3 separate regions of the Homo sapiens genome follow, and all the other regions are linked to region 3. Evidence: fine-mapped expression QTL. A gene starts in region 3. Each other region holds a variant in brackets. All regions are shown on one strand. Distances are from middle to middle.

The links. PIP is the estimated chance that this variant, and not a neighbour inherited with it, causes the effect.
Region 1: its variant is the best candidate, but not a certain one, in a credible set for the expression of NINL in tibial nerve (GTEx, PIP 0.65).
Region 2: its variant is the best candidate, but not a certain one, in a credible set for the expression of NINL in whole blood (TOPMed, PIP 0.82).

Annotation. Positions count from the first base shown.
Region 1 is chr20:25,661,870-25,667,098 of GRCh38, reverse strand. All of the region lies in intron 2 of ZNF337-AS1 (ZNF337 antisense RNA 1), which reads right to left. Among named protein-coding and RNA genes, the nearest start is that of ZNF337, 32 kb to the left of the region's middle. The variant A/G (reference allele first, on the strand shown) is at 2,076.
Region 2 is chr20:26,291,282-26,296,510 of GRCh38, reverse strand. No RefSeq gene overlaps it. Among named protein-coding and RNA genes, the nearest start is that of MIR663AHG, 85 kb to the right of the region's middle. The variant C/T (reference allele first, on the strand shown) is at 3,156.
Region 3 is chr20:25,583,372-25,588,600 of GRCh38, reverse strand. It overlaps NINL (ninein like), which reads left to right and starts at 3,070. Exons shown (of 24, transcript NM_025176.6): 1 at 3,070-3,146. RefSeq lists a silencer at 3,006-3,135.

The DNA.
Region 1 (5,229 bases), 78 kb before region 3:
AACATACAGTAAAAATCTTCAAGAGTACTAGCAAACTGAACCTAGCAACACATCAAAAAGATAATATACCATGATCAATGGAATCTACCTCAGGTATGCAAAGGAGGTTGAACATATGCAAATCAATAAATGTGATATATCACATCAACAGATTGAAAGACAAAAACTATGATCCTCTCAATAGATGCAGGAAAAGCATTTTATATAAGTTAACATCCCATCCTGATAAAAACTGTCAACAAATTAGGCATAGAAAAAACATACCTCAACATAATATAAGCCACATATTACAAACCCACAGCTAACATCATAATGAATAGGGGAAAGCTGAAAGCCTTTCCTCCAAGAACTGAAACATGAATCAAATGCCTACTTCCACCTCTCTTATTAACATAGTAGTGGAAGTCTTAGAATCAGGCAAGATAAAGAAATAGGCATCCAAATTGGAAAACAGAAAGGCAAATTATCCCTCTTTACAGACAAGATGATCTTAAATATAGAAAATCCTAAAGACTTCACCAAAAAACTTAGAACAAACAAATTCAGTAAAGTTGCAGGAGACAAAAATCAACATACTAAAATCAGTAGCATTTCTATACACTAATAATGAACTAGTTGAAAAATCAAAAAAGCAATCCCAACTATAGTAGCTACAAAAAAATTAAATACCTAGGAAAAAATTTAACAAAGAGATAAAAGGCCTAGGCAATGAAAACCAAAAAATACTGATGAAAAAAATTGATGAGGACACAAACAGAAAGACATGCCACGCTTAAGGAGCAAAAGAATTAATGTTGTTAAGATGACCATACTACCCAGAGCAATCTACAAATTTAATGCAATCCTTATCAAACTACCAATGACATTCTTCACAAAAATAGAAAAAATACTCCTAAAGTTTGTAAGGAACCACAAAAAATCTCAAAATAGCCAAAGCAATGTAAGCATAAAGAACAAAGTGGGAGGCATCCTTTCTATATATACTAAACCAATGAAGAGAATAAATAGCACAGAAAAACATTCATGTATTTACAGCCAACTGATTTTTAACAGTCACCAGGAATATACATTGGGTAAAGGACACTGTCTAATAAATGGTACTAGGAAAACTGGACAGCCATATGCAGAAGAATAAAACTATACCCCTATCTTTTACCATATGCAAAAAAATCTGCTAAAAACAGATTAAAGACTTAGTGTAGGACCTGAAATCATAAAACTGCTAGAAGCAAACATAGGGAAAATGCTTCAGGAATTGGTCTAGGCTAAGATTTTGTGACGGAGACCTCAAAATCACAGCCAACAAAACCAAAAATTGACAAATGGGATTATATGAAACTAGAAAGCTTCTGCATAGCAAGTAAAACAACAGAGTGAAGAGACAACATATAGAATAGAAGAAAATATTTGCAAACTATTCATCTTGTAAGGGACTAATATACAGAATATACAAGGAACTCAAACAACTCGACACAAAACCCAAATAATCTAATTAAAAAGTGGCAAGGGATCTGAATAGGCATGTCTCAAAAGAAGACAGACATACAAATAGGCAACAAGTATATGGAAAAATGCTCAACCTCACTAATCATCAGGGAAATGCAAGTTACAATGAGAGATCCCCTTACCCCAGTTAGGATGGGTATTATCAAAAAAGACAAAAAAAAATAATGGCAAGATGTGGAGAAAAGGCAATTCTTATACACTGCTGCTGGGAATGTAAATTAGTACAGCCATTATGGAAAATGATATGGAGGTTCTTTTTAAAACTACAAATTGAACTGCCATACAATGAAGCAATCTTAAAACTTGGTATTTATCCAAAGGAAAGGAAATCAGGCAGGGTGTGGTGGCTCATGCCTATAATCCCAGCACTTTGGGAGGCTGAGGCTGGTGGAACACTTGAGGTCAAGAGTTCGAGACCAGCCTGGCCAACATGGTGAAACCCTGTCTCTACTAAAAATATAAAAATTAGCCAGATGTGGTGGTGCACACCTGTAATCCCAGCTACTTGGGAGACTGAGGCAGGAAAATCATTTGAACCTGGGAGGCAGAGGTTGCAGTGAGCCAAGACC[A/G]CGCCACTGCACTCCAGCCTGAGTGACAGAACGAGACTCCTCAAAAAAAAAAAAAAAAAAGGAAATCAGTATACCAAAGGAATACATGCACCCTGATGTTTATTGTAGTAGCACTGTTCACAATAGCCAAAACATGGAATCAACCTAAGTATCCATCAGTGGATGAATGATAAATAAAATGTCCTATATATACACAGTGGAATATTATTCAGCCATAAAAACATAATTAAATCCTGTTATTCTACACCAAAATGGATGGAACTGGAGGTCATTACGTTAAGTGAAATAAGCCAAGCACAGAAACACAAACATCACATATTCATATGTGGGAGACAAGAAAGTTGATCTCATAGAGGTAGAAAGTAAAACAATGGTTACCACAGATTGGGAACAGGACAGGCCTAGGGGAATGAAAAGGCATTGGTTAATGGGTAGGAACATAGAGTTAGATGGAAGGAATATGTTCTAGTGTTTGATAGCACAGTAGGATGGCTATAGTTAACACCAATATATTGTATATGTCATAATAGCTAAAAGAGAAGATTTGAAATGTTCCCAACACAAAAACAGTAAACGTTTGAGGTGATGGATAGACTAAGTACTCTGATTTAATCATTTCATATCGTATGTATACATTCAAATATCACATGTACTTCATAAATATGTGTCGTTATTATGTATCAATAAAACTTTTAAAGGAAACTATTATGCTAAGCAAAGAAACCAGACATAAAATACCTCAAATTGTATGAGTTTACTTATTAAATTTCCAGAAAGGCAAATCTTAAAAATAGAAAGTATATTAGTTGTTGCCTAGGGGTGGGAAGGTTAGATGACTACAAAGTGAACTTTTGGGAGTGAAGGAAGTGCTCTAAACTAAATTATGGTGATTATCACACAACTGTATAAACTAAAACTCATCAAACTGAATACTTTCCATGGTTAAATTTCAAAGTATGTAAATTATACCTCAATAAAATGTTCTTTTTTAAAAAGGATTACACCGGGCACAGTGGCTCATGCCTGTAATCCCAGGACTTTGGGAGGCCAATGCGGGCAGATCACTTGACCTCAGGAGTTCGAGACTAGCCTGGCCAACATGGCGAAACCCTATCTCTACTAAAAATACAAAAATTAGCTGGGCATGGTGGCGTGCGCCTATAGTTCTAGCTACTTGGGAGGCTGAGGTATGAGAATCACTTGAACCTGGAAGGCGGAGGTTGCAGTGAGCCAAGATGGTGCCACTGCACTCCAGCCTGGATGACAAAGCGAGACCCTGTCTCAAAGTAATTAATTAATTAATTAATTAATTAAATTTAATTTAATTTAAAAGGATTATACTCCATGACCAAGTGGGACTTATTCCTGGAATGCAAGGATAATTGAGTATATAAAAATCAATCAATGTAATACACTGCATTAACAAATTGAAGGGAGAAAACCACATGAACATCTCCATTGATGCAAGAAAATTATTTGACAAAATTCAACACCTCTTTATGATTAAAACAAAATTCAACAAACTAGGAATAAAAGGAATAAAATGTCATGGGAAGGCAGTTTCTGTAAAGGAAACATAATAAAGGCCATATATAAAAACCCACAGCTAACATCATTCTTAATGGTGAAAGACAAAAGTTTTTCCTCTAACAGCAGGAACAAGGCAGGGATGTCCACTTTTATCACTTCTATTCAACATAGCACTGGAATTTCTAGCCAGAGCAATTAGGCAAGAAAAAGAAAAGGTATCCAATTTTGAAAGGAAGAAAAATCATCTGTTTGTAATTATTATCTTACGTGTAGAAGATTCCACACAAAAAACTGTTAGAACTAATAAATAAATTCAACAAAGTTGCAAAATACAAATACAAAAAAAAAAGTGGCCAGGCGCGGTGGCTCACGCCTGTAATCCCAGCACTTCGGGACGCCGAAGTGGGCGGATCACGAGGTCAGGAGATTGAGACCATCCTGGCTAACACGGTGAAACCCCCTCTCTACTAAAAATACAAAAAATTAGCCAGGCGTGTTGGCGGGCGCCTGTAGTCCCAGCTACTGGGGAGGCTGAGCCAGGAGAATGGCGTGAACCCAGGAGGCGGAGCTTGCAGTGAGCCGAGATTGCACCACTGCACTCCAGCCTGGGAGACAGAGCGGGGCGACGGAGTGAGACTCCGTCTCAAAGAAAAAAAGAGGTGACCTTGAATTGGCCAACCTAAGTCTTCTTCAGTGTCTGAATAGAGCTGGAAATAGAAATTATGTTCTCATCTAAAAAATTTTAAAATTACATTGTTCAGGCACCAAATTTTGGCAATTCCCAATCTAATTTGCATTATCTATGCAAAGACATCTAAACAGATTGTCATTGAATAATTTAAATATCCAGAGGCACAAATTAGTATTTCCCTGCTTCATTCCTATCCCAAGGAAATACCTTCACCATGGCAAAACTTTCTCCAATAAATTTGCCCTGATGATGAAATTCATTTGCTTCTGCAAACTGATCAAATATTTATCTAGACACTCACACACACCTCCCACCCCACCCTACTTCTCTCTCTCTCATTCACTCACAATTTGGCTTACACTTTTTAAACTTTTTTATTTTTTTGAGACAGGGTCTTGCTCTGTCACCCAGGCTGGAGTGCAGTGCTGCAGTCATGGCTCATGCAGCCTTGACCTCCTAAACTCAGGTGATCCTCCCTCCTCAGCCTCCCAAGTAGCTGGGACTACAGGCACATGCCACCATGCCTGGCTAATTTTTGCATTTTTTGTAGAGACTAGGGTCTCCCTATGTTGCCCAGGCTGGTCTCAAACTCCTGGGCTCAAGTGATCCTCCCACCTCAGCCTCCCAAAGTGTTAGGATTACAGGCATGACCACCGTGCTATAAGAGAAAATTTTACTATTTTTAATTGGTTAAAAAAATATATCTAAGACATAGCCTTTACATTTATTTTGATGTTTTAAAAATTGCAGGCTGGATGCAATAGCTCATGCCTGTAATCCCAGCTGAGGCAGGAGGATTGCTTGAGCCTAGGAATTCAAGACCAGCCTGGGCAACATAGCAAAACCTCATCTCTACAAAAAAACATATATAAAAATTAGCTGGGCGTGGTGGTGCATGCCTGTAGTCCCAGCTACTTGGGAGGCTGAAGTGAG
Region 2 (5,229 bases), 710 kb before region 3:
ATGAAAAGGAATGTTCAACTGTGTGAGTTGATAGCAAACGTCACAAACAAGTTTCTGAGAATGCTTCTGTGTAGTTCTTATGTGAAGAGAATTCCTTTTTCACCATTGGCTTCAAAGCGCTCCAAATGTCCATTTGCAGATTCTACAAAAAGTGTATTTCAAAACTGCTCTATCAGAAGAAAGGTTCAACTGGGTGAGTTGAGTGCACACATGACAAAGTAGTTTCTGAGAATGCTTCTGTCTAGTTTTTGGGAAGATATCCCGTTTGCAACGAAGGCCTCAAAATGTTCCAAAATATCCACTTGCAAATTCTACAAAAAGAGTGTTTCAAAAGTGCTCTAAGAAAAGGAATGTTCAACTCTGTGAGTTTAAAGCAAACAACAGAAATAAGTTTCTTAGAATGCTTCTGTGCAGTTTTTATGTGAAGATATATAGTTTTTCACCATAGGCCTCAAAGCTCTTCAAATGTCCATTTGCAGATACTTCAAAAATATTGTTTCAAAACTGCTCTATTAAAAGAAATGATCAACTCTGTGAGTTGAATGCACACATCACAAAGAAGTTTCTCAGAATGCTTCGGTCTAGTTTTTATGTGAAGATATTTGCTTTCTCACCATAGACCTCAAAGCGCAACAAATGTCCACTTGCAGATTCTACAAAAAGAGTGTTTCAAAACTACTCTAACTAAAGTCCAACTCTGTGTGTTGCATGCACACATCACTAGGCAGTTTCTGAGAATGCTTCTGTCTAGTTTCTAAGTGAAGATATTCCTGTTTCCAACGAAGGCCTCAGAGAGATCCAAATATCCACTTGCAGATTCTACAAGTGGAGTGTTTCAAAACTGCTCTATCTAAAGAATGGTTCAACTCTCTGAGTTGAAAGCACTCATCACAAAGAACTTTCTGAGAATGCTTCTGTCTAGTTTTTATGTGAAGATATTCCCGTTTAGGCTACAAAAATCTCCAAATATCCATAAGCAGATTCTACAAAAAGAGTGTTTCAAAACTGCTCTATCAAAAGAAAGGTTCAACTGGGTTAGTTGAGTGCATACATCACAAAGAAGTTTCTGAGAATGCTTCTGTATAGTTTTTGTGAAGATATCGCTTTTGCAACGAAGGCCTCAAAGTGTTCCAAATATCCACTTGGAAATATCACAAAAAGAGTGTTTCACAACTGCTCTATTAAAAGGAATGTTCAACTCTGTGAGTTGAAAGCAAACATCACAAAGTATTTTCTGAGAAGGCTTCTTTGTAGTTTTTATGTGAAGATACATCCTTCTTCACCACAGGCCTCAAAGCGCTCAAAATGTCCACACGCAGATTCTACATAAAGAGTGTATGAAAACTGCTCTTTCAAAAGAAAGGTTCAACTCTGTGAGTTGAATGCCCACATCACAAAGAATTTTCTGAGAATGCTCCTGTATTGTTTTTATGTGAAGATATTTCTTTTTTCCCCATACGCCTCAAAGCGCTACAAATGTCCACTTGCAGATGCTACAAAAAGAGTGTTTCAAAACTGCTATATCAAAAGAAATGTTCAGCCGTGTGAGTTGAATGCACACATCACAAAGAAGTTTCTGAGAATGCTTCTGTCTAGTTTTTGTGAAATATCCCGTTTCCATCAAAGGCCTCAAAGTGGTCCAAATATCCACTTGCAAACCCTACAAAAAGAGTGTTTCAAAAGTGCTCTAAGAATAGGAATGTTCAACTCTATTAGTTGAAAGCAATCAACACAAAGATGTTTCTGAGAATGCTTCTGTGTAGTTTTTATGTGAAGATATTTCGTTTTTCACCATAGGCCTCAAAGCCCTCCAAATGTCCAGTTGCAGATACTTCAAAAAGATTGTTTCAAAACTGCTCTATCAAAAGAAATGTTCAACTCCGTGAGTTCAATGCACACATCACAAAGAAGTTTCTGAGAATGCTTCTGTCCAGTTTTCATGTGAAGATATTTGCTTTTTCACCATAGGCCTCAAAGCGCTACAAATGTCCACTTGCAGATTCTACAAAAACAGTGTTTCAAAGCTGCTCTATCAAAAGAAAGGTTCAACTATGTGAGTTGAATGCATGCATCACAAAGCAGTTACTGAGAATGTTTCTGTCTAGTTTTTATGTGAAGAAATTCCCGTTTCTAACAAAGTCCTAAAAGAAATCCAAATAACCACTAGCAGATCCTACAAAAGGAGTGTTTCAAAACTGCTCTATCGAAAGAAAGGTTCGATTCTGTGAGTTGAATTCACACATCATAAAGTACTTTCTGAGAATGCTTCTGTATAGTTTTTATGTGAAGATATTCCCGTTTCCAACGAAGGCCTGAAAAATCTCCAAATATCTACTAGCAGATTCTGCAAAAGGAGTGCTTCAAAACTGCTCTATCAAAAGAAAGCTTCAACTCTGTTAGTTGAATGCACACATCACAAAAAGTTCCTGTGAATGTTTCTGTTTAGTTTTTATGTGAGGATATTCCCTTTATCACCATAAGCCTCAAATCGCTCAAATATACACATGCAGATACTACAAAAAGAGTGTTTCAAATCTGCTCTCTCAAAAGGAAAGTTTAACTCCGTGAGTTGAATGCACACATCACAAAGAAGTTTCTGAGAATGATTCTGTCAAGTTTTTATGTGAAGATATTTCTTCTTCCACAGTAGGCCTCAAAGCGCTCCAAATGAACAATTACAGATGCTACAAAAAGAGTTTTTCAAAACTGCTCTATCAAAAGAAAGTTTCAACTCTGTGAGTGGAATGCACGCATCACAAAGAAGTTTGTGAGCAAGCTTCTGTCTAGTTTTATGTAAAGATATTTGCTTTTTCACCACAGGCTTCAAAGCGCTCCAAATGTCCACTTGCGGATTGTCCAAAAAGAGTGTTTCAAAACTGCTCTAACAAAAGAAAGGTTCAACTCTGTGAGTTGAATGCACACATCCAAAGAAGTTTCTGAAAATGCTTCTGTGAAGTTTTTATGTGAAGATATTTCCTTTTTCACCGTAGACCTCAGAGAGATCTAAATGTCCACTTGCAAATTCTACAAAAAGAGAGTTTTAAAAGTGCTCTATCAAAAGAAAAAGTTGAATGCACACATCACAAAGAAGTTTCTGAGAATGCTTCTGTCTAGTTTTTGTGAAGAGAATGCTTTTGTCTAGTTTCCAATGAAGG[C/T]CTAAAAGCGATCCAAATATCCTCTTGCAAATTCTACAAAAAGAGTGTTTCAAAACTGCTCTATGAAAAGGAATGTTCAACTCTGTGAGTTGAAAGCAAACAACACAAAGAAGTTTCTGAGAATGCTTCTGGGTAGTTTTTATGTGAAGATATTTCCTTTTTCACCATAGGCCTCAAAGCACTCCAAATGTCCAGTTGTAGATTCTACAAAAAGAGTGTTTCAAAACTTCTCAATCAAAAGAAATGTTCAACTCTGTGAGGTGGGTACACACATCAAAAAGAAGTTTCTGAGAATGCTTCTGTCTAGTTTTTATGTGAAGATATTTCTTTTTTCAACAAAGGCCTCAGAGCGCTCCAAATGTCCACTGGCACATACTAAAAAAAAAAAGTGTTTCAAAACTGCTCTATGAAAAGGAATGTTCAACTCTGTGAGTTGAATGCATACATCACAAAGATGTTTCTGAGAATGCTTCTGTCTAGTTTTTATGTGAAGATATTCCAGTTTCCAACGAAGGCCACAAAGCTCTTCAAATGTCCACTTGCAGATTCCATAAAAAAAGAGTTTCAAAACTGTTCTATCAAAAGAAAGGTTCACCTCTGCGAGTTGAGTGCACACATCATAAAGAAGTTTCTGAGAATGCTTCTGTCTAGTTTTTATGTGAAGATATTTCCTTTTTCACCATAGGCCTCCAAGTGCTCCAAATGTCCTCTTGCAGATTCTACAAAAAGAGTGTTTCAAAACTGCTCTATGAAAAGTAATATTCAACTCTGAGAGTTGAATGCACACATCACAAAGAAGTTTCTGAGAATGCTTCTGTCTAGCTTTTAGGTAAAGATATTTCCTTTTTCACTTTAGGCCTCAAAGCACTCCAAAATCCAGTTGCAGATGCCACAAAAAGAGTGTTTCTAAACTGCTCTATAAAAAAAAAGAGTTGAATGCACAAATCACAAAGAAGTTTCTGGGAATTCTTTTGTCTAGTTTTTGTGAAGATATCCCGTTTCCAAAGAAGGCCTCAAAGTGTTCCAAATATCCACTTGCAAATTCTACTAAAAGGTTGTTTCAAAACTGCTCTATGAAAAGGAATGTTCAACTCTGTGAGTGGAAAGCAAACATCTCAAAGAAGTTTCTGAGAATGCTTCTTTGTAGTTTTTATGTGAAGATATTTCCTTTTTCTCCATGGGCCTCAAAGCGCTCCAAATGTCCACTTGCATATTCCATAAAAAGAGTGTTTCTAAGCTCCTCTATCAAAAGAACGGTTCAACTCTGTAAGTTGAGTTCACATATCGCAAAGAATTTTCTGAGAATGCTTCTGTCCAGTTTTTGTGAAGATATCAGATTTCCAAAGAAGGCCTCAAAGCGTTCCAAATATCCACTTGCAAATTCTACAAAAAGAGTGTTTCAAAACTGCTCTATGAAAAGGAATGTTCTACTCTGTGAGTTGAAAGCAAACATCTCAAAGAAGTTTCTGAGAATGATTCTGTGTAGTATTATATGAACATATTTTCTTTTTCACCACAGGCCTCAAAGCGCTCCAAAGGTCCACTTGCAGATTCTACAAGAGTGTTCCATTACTGCTCTATGAAAAGAGAGGTTCAACTCTGTGAGTTGAATGCACACATCACAATGAAGTTTCTGAGAATTCTTCTGTCTAGTTTTTTGTGAAGACATTTCCTTTTTCACCATAGGCCTAAAAGCGCTACAAATGTCCACTTGCAGATTCTACAAAAAGAGTGTTTCAAATCTGCTCTATAAAAAGAAAGGTACAATTCTGTGAGTTGAATGCACACATCACAAAGAAATTTCTGGAAATGCTTTTGTCTAGTTTTTGTGAAGATATCCCGTTTCCAACGAAGGCCTCATATCGGTCCAAATATCCACTTGCAAATTCTACAAAAAGAGTTTTTCAAAACTGCTCTATGAAAAGGAAAGTTAAACTCTGTGAGGTGAAAGCAAATATCACAAAGAATTTTCTGAGAATGCTTCTGTGTAGTTTTTATGTGAAGATATTTCTTTTTTCACCATAGTCTTCAAAGCGCTCAAATGTCCCCTTACAGATTCTACAAAAAGAGTGTT
Region 3 (5,229 bases):
TAGTGACAGAACTGAATTAGAGGATGCCCAGCTGGTGTCTGCTGCTCAGTGTGTGGAGAAAACCCCACACACATTTAGTCATAGGTCTTCTGTGTTGACTGTTGTGCGGTGTGAGAGTGGAGAGTTTTCTCTACACGACAATAAAATTGGAATGTCTGGAGGTAGGATGCAGGCACTGGTGTTTTTAATTTTTAAGTAGTCAAAGTGGAGAACTCCTAGTCTTCCCACTTCTCTCTGATGAAGAACCACTACATTAACTCATTTAAATTCGGTATGCTCAACTGGGCACGGTGCCTCATGCCTGCAATCTCAGTACTTTGGGGGGCCAAAGTGGGAGGATCATTTTAGCCCAGGAGTTCAAGACCAGCCTGGGCAACATAGACCCCATCTCTACAAAAAATTAGTAAGTTAGCCAGGTGTGGGGGTGCATCTGTAATGCAGCTATTTGGGAGGCTGAGGTGGGAGGATCACTTGAGCCCAGGAGATCAAGGCTGCAGTGAGCTGTGATCACACCACCACACTCCAGCCTGGGTAACAGACTGAGATCCTGTCTCAAGAAATAAAATAACAAATAAATTCAGTACACTCCTGTGCAATGGGTAATTTTTACATTTCTATTTTGCAAATGAAACTGAGATCACAGATGTTACATGACTGGGTGATCCACAGTCAAACAGCTAGTAAGTGGCATGATTCACATCTTCTGACTCCAAATTCATTCTCCAGCCAGTGAGTGGGAGCCCGTGCAGAGCATCAGGAGCACTGAAGAGAAGACATTCTTCACAATGGCAGCCCCCATGGCTCTGAGCACCCCTGGGAATCCAGGGTTATAAACTGGAGTCATCGGGGTCTTGGCTGCGCATCCCACAGGGACCACCTTTGCACGGTGTGTCCTGCCATTGTGCCCCACACTGGTTGGGACAGGTCATGGGCATAGCAAAAGGTATCTGGGCACATTCAGCAGGTCAGAGAAACCTCCCAGCCTAGAACACACTATGAGCGTCTCTGAACCACTCCCTGTGTTTGCCTTTTGCTCTGCATGGGGTTTAGCACTTGCAGGCACTTGGAAATTTCACTCGCCCTTGGAAACTCCGTTCCCCCATAGCCTGTCTTTCATCCTGCTTCCTTCTCACCCCATTTTGCCTCTGATCCTCACATCCTCTAAAGTGGAGTTCCTACAAAGTATATGCACCTTTCTCATGCTACAGTGTACTGTAGCTCATTTTGTAATTCTGATATAACTCTCTGACATTTTTGTATATTTATGTTTTTATTTTTATTTTTTGGAGACAGAGTCTTGCTCTGTCGCCCAAGCTGGAGTCTAGTGGCAAGATCTCAGCTCACTGCAACCTCCGACTCCTGGGTTCATGCAATTCTTGTGCCTCAGCCTCACGAGTAGCTGGGACTACAGGCGCGCGTTAACCACAACTGGCTAATTTTTTTGTGTTTCAGTAGACACTGGGTTTCACCATGTTGGCCACGCTGGTCTCGAACTCCTGTCCTCAGGCAATCTGCCCACAGTGGCCTCCCAAACTACTGGGATTACAGGCATGAGTCACCGTGCCTGGCTGTATTTACTTTTTTTTTTCTTTTTTTGAAATGGAGTCTCACTCTGTCGCCCAAGCTGGAGTGCAGTGGCTTGATAACCACAACCTCCGCCTCCCAGATTCAAGCGATTCTCCTGTCTCAGCCTCCTGAGTAGCTGGGATTACAGGCATATGCCATCACGCCCGGCTAATTTTGTATTTTTAGTAGAGACGGGGTTTCTCCATGTTGGTCAGGCTGGTCTTGAACTCCCGACCTCAGGTGATCCGCCTGCCTCAGCCCCCCAAAGTGCTGGGATGACAGGCATGAGCCACTATGCCCGGCCGGGTATTTACGTTTTTAAATTGTTTTCTGTGTAAACTCTATAAGGGCCAGGGATTTTTTGCACCGCTGTTGGCAGCCCCTAGGACAATGCCTGGCCCTAGTAGGTGTTCGATAAATATATACAGGTTGAATATCCCTTAACCGAGATGCTTGGCACCAGAAGCATTTAGGATTTCAGATTTTGGAATATTTGCATTATACCAATTGAACACCCCTAATCTGAAAATCCAAAATTAGAAATGCTCCAATGAGGCCAGGTGCGGTGGCTCATGCCAGTAATCCCAGCACTATGGGAGGCCAAGGTGGGAGGATCACTTGAGGCCAGAAATTCCAGACCAGCCTGGGCAACATGGTGAAGCCTCCTCTCTTAAAAAAATACAGGCCGGGCGCGGTGGCTCACGCCTGTAATCCCAGCACTTTGGGAGGCCGAGGCGGTGGATCCATCCCTTGAGCCTAGGAGTTCGAGACCAGCCTGGGCAACACAGTGAGACTCTGTGCTAAAAATACAAAAATTAGCGGACATGGTGGCAGATGCCTGCAGTCCCAGCTACTGGGGGTTGGGACGCTGAGGCGGGAGGATCGCCATAGCCGGGAAAGTCGAGGCTGTAGTGAGCCATGACCGCGCCACTGCATCCCAGGCTGGGCAGCAGAAGTGACAGCCTTTCTCAAAAGAAAAGAAAGTTAAAAGAAGAAAAAAGAAGTGCTCCAATGTGCATTTCCTTTGAGCATCAGGTCAGCGCTCAAAAACTTTCAGATTTTGAAGCATTTCGGATTTCAGATGTTTGGATTAGGGATGCTCAACCCGTATTGATTTAATATGCGGTGGAAACGTGACGACCTAGGTTTTAAGTCGCGGTTTCCTCAGTGGTGGGTTTGGGGTATTACCCCTGCCTGGCCGGCCTCCGGGCTTGTTTCCAGAAGATGCTACCCCGAGAGCTGCGAACCGCCAAGCTCCGCAGCGCGCAGGGCTCCGACAGGGACCAGCGAGGTCAGCTCCAAGGGTCACCCCAGGCTCCAAACTGGCCAGAGCCGCCCTGAGATTTGCGGAGGCCGCCTTGCCCCCACCCCGCCCCGCAATCCCGGACCCGACCCGCCCCCTCTCCCGTTCGCTCGCCCCGCCCCCTGTTCGCCCACTGCGCCGGGACACCGAGGGGGCGGTGCCTCGAGGCCGGGAGGAGTGTTGCGTCGCGGCCTCCAGACACAAAGAGCGGCCGGCGGTACGGGGGTGGTGCCGCGCTCCTGGCCCCGCGCGGGCGGACGGCGGAGGCGCCTCCCAGGTGAGCCGGCCCGGGCGTCCGGCGGGACATTCAGGCGGCTGGTGGGGTCGAGAGTCCGGGGCCGCCCCTGCGTCGCGACCCGCGCCTTAGTCACCAGACCCGGCTCCGGGAGCGCGGCCTCGGGTGCTCCTCGCGGTGCGGGGCGCAGACTCGGCGCATCTGCTGTGGTGCCTGCTCTTCCGGTCGCCCTCGAGGGCGGGGCGGGGGTCACGCCCTAAAATACAGCGCCCGCTGGGCCGAACGCTTGAAAACCCGGTTTCCCGACGGCGGCGGCGCGGGCGCCGTGCGAACGAGGGCCCGGGTCCAGCACAGCCCCAAGGCTCGGCCTGAGGCGGGCGGCCTTGGCCGGGGCCCCCCGTGGTAATGAGCTACGCGGTGCCCGCCGCCTGCCCAGCGCGGGCCGTTTCTCCTGACGCCGCCGGCGTCTGGTCGAGGCCCAGGATTCCCTCCTGCCAGTGTGGCTGCGGCCCCCCACGGAGCGGGACCCGCGTTCGTGGCGCTTGGGACGGTTGATTGAAAGGGTGTAGAAGTCTGTTGCGAATTTTATCTGTTGTACTCGTTTTGCAGATTCGCCCCTTTCCTCCCGCCTGTGCGCGCAGTCACACACACCATGTGGGAGTCTCTGATCGCGTTGGGTTCATAATCATCGATCGTGCCTGGGTACTGATGCCCCATTGTTAGGAGCTCTGTGTGGGGCTGTATGTTTGCACAGGACTCACGTGAGGAAGGGTGGCCACGTTTCTTTCTGCTCTGTGAGACTTAGGCCAAGCCCTGGAACTAGGGAGGAGGTTCAGGAAGAGACCCATGAAGCTGGCGGGGCCTTGGAGAAGGGCAAGTGATTTTCAAGGTCAGTAGTAAGAGGGGTCATGAGTAATGGTAAGTTTCTTAGCGGCCTTTGCTGTGACTTCTAGGTTTTTCACACTGGACTTAAAATACTTTTAAAAGCAGAGTTTTTGTTCTTCTTGTTGTTGTTCTTGTTGTTGTTGCTGTTTTTGAAACGAAGTTTCACTCTTGTTGCCCAGGCTGGAGTGCAATGGCGCCATCTCGGCTCACTGCAACCTCTGCCTCCCGGATTCAAGCGATTCTCCTGCCTCAGCCTCCCGAGTAGCTGGGATTACACGCCCAGCTAATTTTTTGTGTTTTTAGTGGAGATGGGGGTTTCACCATGTTGGCCAGGCTGGTCTCGAACTTCTGACCTTCAGGTGATCCAGCTGCCTCGGCCTCCCAAAGTTCTGGGATTACAGGCGTGAGCCACTGCACCCGGCCAAGTTTTTGTTTTGTTTTGTTTTTGTTTTTTAATTTTATTTTACTTTAAGTTCTGGGATACATGTGCAGAACGTTCTGGTTTGTTACATGGGTATACATGTGCCATGATGGTTTGCTGCACCTATCAACCCGTCATCTAGATTTTAAGCCCCACATACATTAGGTATTTGTCCTAATGCTCTCCCTCCTCTTGCCCCCCACCCGCCCCGACAGGTCCCGATGTGTGAGGTGTGTGATGTTCCCCTCCCTGTGTCCATGTGTTCTCATTGTCAACTCCCACTTATGAGTGAGAACATGCGGTGTTTGGTTTTCTGTTCTTGTGTTAGTTTGCTGAGAATGATGGCTTCCCACTTTATGCATGTCCCTGCAAAGGACATGAACTCATTCTTTTTTATGGCTACGTAGTATTCCATGGTGTATCTGTACCACATTTTCTTTATTCAGTCTATCCGTGATGGGCATTTGGGTTGGTTCCAAGTCTTTGCTATTGTAAATAGTGCTGCAATAAACATACACGTTTATGTGTCTTTATAGTAGAATGATTTATAGTCCTTTGGGTATATACCCAGTAATGGGATCACCGGGTCAAATGTTATTTCTGGTTCTAGATCCTTGAGGAATCGCCACACTGTCTTCCACAATGGTTGAACTAATTTACACTCCCACCAACAGTGTAAAAGCGTTCCTATTCCTCCACAGCCTCTCCAGCATCTGTTGTTTCCTTGCTTTTTAATAATTACCATTCTAACTGATGTGAGATGGTATCTCATTGTGGTTTTGATTTGCATTTCTCTAATGACCAGTGATGATGAGCTTT